Regions from separate parts of the Homo sapiens genome. Here region 2 is reported to be linked to region 1. Evidence: microRNA targets listed by miRTarBase, many of them from high-throughput screens and not tested one by one. Region 1 holds a microRNA gene; the other region holds the end of a gene's coding sequence.
The links. Region 1 holds the annotated microRNA hsa-miR-4466 (GGGUGCGGGCCGGCGGGG, at 1,433-1,450, shown strand). A microRNA usually pairs through its seed, bases 2 to 8, with sites in the 3' UTR of a target mRNA and lowers its output. Matches are read on the target gene's strand: a 7mer-m8 pairs with bases 2 to 8, a 7mer-A1 pairs with bases 2 to 7 and ends in A, and an 8mer does both.

Region 2: miRTarBase lists NMNAT2 as a target of hsa-miR-4466. The part of its 3' UTR that is shown has no 7-base or 8-base seed match.

Annotation. Positions count from the first base shown.
Region 1 is chr6:156,777,886-156,781,159 of GRCh38, reverse strand. It overlaps MIR4466 (microRNA 4466), which reads left to right and starts at 1,429; the gene lies at 1,429-1,482. It overlaps ARID1B (AT-rich interaction domain 1B), which reads right to left. Exons shown (of 20, transcript NM_001374828.1): 1 at 1,689-3,274. It overlaps LOC115308161 (a long non-coding RNA gene), which reads left to right and starts at 2,642. Exons shown (of 2, transcript NR_163974.1): 1 at 2,642-2,914. RefSeq lists silencers at 1,299-1,468, 1,499-2,188, 2,259-2,308, 2,529-2,758, 3,009-3,078 and 1 more and an enhancer at 2,030-2,565.
Region 2 is chr1:183,250,111-183,253,110 of GRCh38, forward strand. NMNAT2 (nicotinamide nucleotide adenylyltransferase 2) reads right to left here. Exons shown (of 11, transcript NM_015039.4): 11 at 1-2,633. The coding sequence ends at 2,531. It also overlaps a transcript of LAMC2 not described here. Among named protein-coding and RNA genes, the nearest start is that of LAMC2, 65 kb to the left of the region's middle.

The DNA of each region.
Region 1 (3,274 bases):
CTCATTTCGTTTTTTAAATATGTCAATTCTAACCAAAACTCCTCATCCACAAATATCTTTGAACAGTCAGAACTGATAAATCACAAAAAAATGAAGCTTAAATCTTGTTTATCAGGTGAATTACACATCACCAAAATATATTGCTGCCTATCAAAATCTTAAAAAAATTTTAAGGTTTTATTAAGCTGCGTGTGCTGACAGAATTCAAATTTTTCCATAGTTGAATTTGTAAAGGGAAGACTTTTATAAAGGCTTTACAAATCCAAAAATTGGTAAAATTCGTGGTTTACTTATTTTTCAATGGCCTTATCCTCAGCCTCCAATTAAAGTCTATGATATATGTAATGTGCATATTCTAAGACTATCATCAAAGATCTGAATTTTGTAAATGCCCAATACTGGACACCAGCGAACTGTTTTTCTGTATTTGATCCTCTTATTAATAACTATGATTCATAATAGTTTCAGCTTTAAATACTGAACCTTACATTTGCTTGTAATAGAGCTCAGTTATTATTTGTGGCAAGAATTTTTGTGACTGTACTGCTCAGCACTTCTATTTACATCAGCAGTGCTAAATGCCCAATGGTGAGAGGGGAGCCAATCAGATGGCAGATTAGATGTCAACTCAGAGGCAGCTGTCTGGAGACTATTACAGCCAGTTTACCTCCACAATTCAAATTCCAAACCTTGCAAAGGAGATCAAGTCAGTCTTTAGGCTCAGCCTACTAGCAAGAAACAGCAAGAGTGCAGGACACTTCCTAACAGCGCTGTAGGACTCGGGTGACAGCAAAATAAAGAAAATCCAAATAAATACGATCCCAAAAGATCAATTTTCACTGGTCTGCTATCTTACTGGATTTGCTGAATAAAATGCATGCCTAATCCATGATCAAAATAAGTTCAATTGATCCGGAACGTGCTCCTTTCACATAGCCTGCCTGTTGAAGGTGACTCCCTGCAAGCAGCCCGTAAGCCCAATAATGGATTTCCCTGGCTATTCTAAGGAACGAATCGATGTATTTTACAATATTGCACCTCCATGTCGTTGTAAATTTTGTTATTATTCCTACCAGCAAACGTTCGAGCTCGAAGCCCGCACCGAGTGTCTCTGAATGGCTCTCCCTAAGTAGGAAAAACCCACTCGCTTGTCACAAAGCTAACCTATTTTCCCTGCCTGGACCTCGGAAGCCAAGAGGGAACGTGCTGTGGCTAAAGGTGTGAGAAAGTTCCTCATTCTTTCCCCCGTTAAAGCACATTGTGGGCGCTCCCAGAACCGATCGGGTGGCTCTTCGCCCCAGCCGTCCTGGCCGGGAGAGCCTATTTGTTACAAAAGCACCCGAACGGTCCCCGCCGCCCCAAACGGCGACCGCGCGGGTGGCGCCTCGGGATCTCGCTTCGCGTTCCCGGGCCTGGGGGAGGGGGGGGACGCGGGTGCGGGCCGGCGGGGTAGAAGCCACCCGGCCCGGCCCGGCCCGGCGAAGCCCTCCCAGGCCTGGACAGCGCGCCGGCCCCCGGGGCGCCCCGACCGCGGCGGGAGGCGGCCGCCCGTCAAGATGGCTTTGGGCGCCGCGCCCCCGCCGCCCCCGCGGGAAGACGGGGAAAAGTACGCGGCAAAGAAAGAAACTCAGGCTCGCGGCGCGGCGAGGCCGCCGGGCGGAAGCAGGCCCGGCTGGCGCGAGGGTTACCTGGGATCTGCCCATGGTCGGTCCGGGGGTGCCGGGGCTCATCGCCGGGTGACTCCTTTGTTGCGCGGCCGCCCAGGCCGGGCTGGCAGCGGCGTACTGGGCGCCCATGTCCTTGCCCAAGCCCATGCCCGCGGCCGCCTGCTGGCCGCCCGCCGCCGCCCCCGCCGCCGCCGCCTGGGACTGGGGCTGCGACGGCGGCGGCGGCGGCGCGCTGGGGCTGCTGTACTCGGGGTAGCTGCCGCCGTAGCTCCGCATCATGGGGCTGGGCGAGGTGAGCAGCTGATTGAGGGTCGGGGTGGCCCCCGACGGGTGCTGGTTCTGGCCGGCGAAGCGCTGGAAGCCCCCCGCCGCCGAGCCGGCGGCCGCCTTGCTGAGGCTCGCGGCCCCGCCGCCCCCGGGGCCCATCATCATGCCGCCGCCCTGCTGCCGGGGGGAGCTCAGCACCCCGTACCCCGCGGACGAGCCCCCATAGCCGCCGCCGCCGCCGCCTCCTGCTGCTGCCGCCGCCGCCGCGGCCGCCGCCGCCACAGCTCCCGCTCCTGCTCCTCCTGCTCCTGCTCCTCCTCCTCCTCCTCCTCCTCCGCTGCCTCCTCCTCCTCCGCCGCCGCCGCCGCCGCCGCCGCCCGCGCCGGGCCGGCTGTAGCCCGGATAATGGTTGCACTGGCTGTTGGGGTACCCTTCGTGGGAGTTCTGCAGGGGGTCCATGCTGCCGGGGGCCCCGGCGGCGGCGGCGGAGGCGGAGTGCATCATCCCCATCCCGGGGCTTTGTTGTCCGCCATGTTGATCAAAGCAAGGCCCAGCGCGGCCGCCGGGGCCGCCGCTCGCAGGGGCAGCGCTGCCATAGTAATTATTAAACTCCGGGACGGCCGCCGGGCCGCCGCCGCCCCCGGGCACGGCGACCGGCGGCTGCTGCGTGCCCAGGGCGCCCAAGCCCGGGTGCTCGTAGCGGCCGCCCGCCGGCTCCCCCATCTTGGGCGGCGCGTCGTCCTCGTCGCCCGGCTTGCTCAGCAGCGGCGGGCCCGGGGGGTCGGCCTGGCCGCCCGCAGCACTGTCCTTGGCGCCTCCATGTTGCGGCTGCTCCATGTCGGGGCCGGGCTGAGGCGCGCCGCCGCCCGCGCCGCCCAAGCTGTTGTTGTTGGAAATGGGATGTTGCTGTTGCTGCTGCTGCTGCTGCTGCTGTTGCTGCTGCTGCTGCTGCTGCTGGAACTGGTTTAGCTGCTGCTGTAGTGCGTGGTGGTGGTGGAGGTGGTGGGCATGGTGGTGGTGGTGGTGGGCATGGTGGTGGTGGTGGTGCTGCTGGTGGGGCGGCGCGGCGGGGGCTTCGCCAACGGTTTTCAGTTTGTGGTTGGGGAGCAGCCCCGTCTCCATGGCCGAGCCCGGGCCCGACGAGGAGGAAGAGGATGCCGCCGCTGCCGCCGCGGAGGAGGAGGAGGAGGAGGACAGCGCGGCGGCGCTTCCACCCTCCTTGAGAGCCGCCTCGGAGCCGCCGCTCTTGGCGCTGTGGGTGCCGGCGGCGGCCGCGGCGCCCGCGTTATGGGCCATGTTGAGTTCGTGACGGGGGAGCAGGGGGTGGTGGTGCACACTGT
Region 2 (3,000 bases), not on the chromosome of region 1:
CAAGTCCTTAAACAAGCCATGTTTCCCCAGGAAATTCAGGCACCTGTTTTCCTTTGTTTCATTTCCTGGCTTATGACTGTTCTGCCTGGACAAGGCTGTTCCATCTTTCGCTCTCCAGCAATAGCATCATCCTGAGCACTCTGTGGGTCTTCCTTCACCTTCCACAAAGCAACTCTTTCTTGGATTGATGGAGTCCGCTTCTGGGATTTCTTCCAAGCTGCTGAGATCTCTTTATTTCTAAAGGAAACCTAACAGTGGCCTTCCTTACTATCACACCCTCCCCTGGGACTGGCATTACCATCCTATGTGTGGAGAGCACCTGGGACAGATATAATTTAAAAGAAAGATGCCAGGGTAAGGCTTGGGAAGTGTAGAAATCATATGGGCACCTGGTCAGCAACATGAGGAAATGGAGGGTGTGGTGTGACGGCCTAGGGGTCAGGGAAACAATATGTTCTTGTCAGGCCCTACACCTGCTGGCTGACCTGGACCAGCCATTTAATCCCATGGGCCTCTGCTCCCTCAACTTTTAAAGGAAAGTGTTGGATCAACTGAACTCTAAAGTTTTTTTCAGTTTATTATTTCATGATCCCTAGTCAAACACTGATACCCCAAAATAGGATTTTCCTTCCTTCCTCTGAAGATTATTTCAAAAAATCCAAGAGGAATAACAGACTTTCTGGATGCTGCTCTACCATGTTCTTCTGTTAAATCAAGTTCCTTTTCCCGCAATTGAAGGATGTTGCAGATGTGAAACGTGTGGTAAAGAACATTGTCTTTGCTTTCAGGTCCCACCTGGCCCTTTCTGGCCGTAGCTGGTACTAGATTTTGATAAAAGTATCCTAATACTCAGGGACTATTTCTCAAAGACCAGAATCCCAAGAGCCAGAGACTGGATGAGAGACACAAAGCACAAGACAGCAATTTCCTTATGGCTCTCCAAGCAGGACACGCATGAGACCCTAGTAACCAGAAGCAAAGCTGGCAAAACTGTCTGCAGGAACAGAGAGGAAGGTAGAAAATTAGAGAAAAAAGGAGTGAAGCAACTTAGTGGCTCCTGACCCCTCCCAGATCTCCCTTCTGGGAACCCACTCCCCTATTAGGGAGATTTTCTCAGACAGTTCCTGCAGCTCCCAGGCTCTGCAGGGGCTAGAACCAACCACAGAAACAAGACCAAGGCACTGCTTCTCAAGAAGAAACTGACCTCATGCACTGTCTGAGTTACCTCAGCTAGAGAGGGTGAAAATCATCAGTTATCATCAGGGCAACAAATTGCTTTCTCCTAGTTCATCCTGGACTTACAATATGAAAGAGACATTTCCCAGCCCAACAGACAATACATAATTCCAATTAGCAAAGACCTCCAGGGTTGAGTGGACTCCTAGTGTTTTTTTGTTTTGTTTTGTTTTTTTATGACACGACTGCACGATGTGGATCTGGTCCTGCCTATGTGGTTGTTCTCAGGTACAGGAATGTGTCTAAGCATGGCCTCCAAAGGTCCCTTGGAAACCCCTGGCTGGTAGGGAACCCGCACTGTGCCATCAGCTACAGTCCACAAAGGTAAATGAACAGATGCCACCAGGAAATGAGGATGGACTGGCTCTGTGTGATCATAAGCTCAGAGCATCAGGGAAATGGTCATTTGAAACTAAGAAAACAGATTCAAATTATTCTGAGAAAACCGACTATTCACAGACTCGTGTCCCAGGTTTCAGAACCCGAAAATCTCACTCCTGATCAAAGGTTGCTGCTGCTGCTGCTGCTGCTGCTACTGCTATATGTGTGTGTGTATGTGCGTGCGCGGGTGCACACGCATGTGTGCGTGTGTGTGTGTGTGCGTGTGTGTGGTGCTGAAGAAGTGGAGGTTGCTTGGCCTTCTCTACTGGGTGTGGCCCTGATGAACTCACTGAGTGCTGAGGCTGGCTACAATGTCCTATCAGAGGGGAAGTAATACCACAGGAGCACATCAAGACTACAAACATAAAGAACCATGGACACTGATTTCATCCAAGTTCTACAGGGAGTGAACAAAGAAAAATAAATAAACAAAAGAAAGAAAAGAAAAATAGCCCTTTGTAGTAAAGGGCATGCTGGGAAGGCAAGAGCCAGAGCCGCCTCCCCAGAGCATGCTGGGAGGAGGGGCACCAGAGCCGCCTCTCTAGAGCATGCTGGGAGGATGGGCACCAGAGCCGCCTCCCCAGAGCGTGCTGGGAGGATGGGCACCAGAGCCGCCTCTCTAGAGCATGCTGGGAGACGGACACCAGTACATCTCCAAGGACTGCACTTCCCCCGACTCCCACCCCATTCCCTCACCCACCCCCAACCCGGAGACTAGAGGAAAGTCTGTCCAAAGATGACTGTGGAATAGGGAATGCCATGGTTCTCTGCAGGTCCCCCACACTATGGGGGGTTAAGTCAGCAAGTAGGGAAAACAGTCAAGACGAGGAGATGGAGAAACAGAGAGGCAGGAGAGAAACAGGGGGCTGACAAAGATGGAGGGGCCATTGTGTTGCCGGAGGACGAGGGGCTGCTAGCCGGAGGCATTGATGTACAGCTGGCTTTTGAGGATGTAGTCGATGACCGGCTGGGACAGGTAATCCACAACATGGCCGTCCCCATGCTGCAGGGCCAGCCTGCACAAGAAGAGATGACAATCAGATGGACATCCACACCCAAAGCAAGTCAGGAGGACTGGCATGCCCCTGTCTCCCCAGCACCCCATTTGTAGCCTTTTCTCAGGTTGAGTAAATAGTTCTGTATTAGGAAAGGCCCTCTTGCCTCCACAACTCCTTCCCCACCTTGGTGACATCATTCATCGTGGTTCTGCCACTTCCTAGGTGAGAGGCCTTGGGAAAGTTATTTAAGCCCCTCTGTTCTTCAGTTTTTTTCCTGTAAAATGAGGGTAATATCTGGGCCCCTCTCATTTAGTTATTCAAAGGATTAAATGAGTCATTATGCAAAGCACTTAGAAGAGTGCCAGACACACAGTGGGCATCTAAT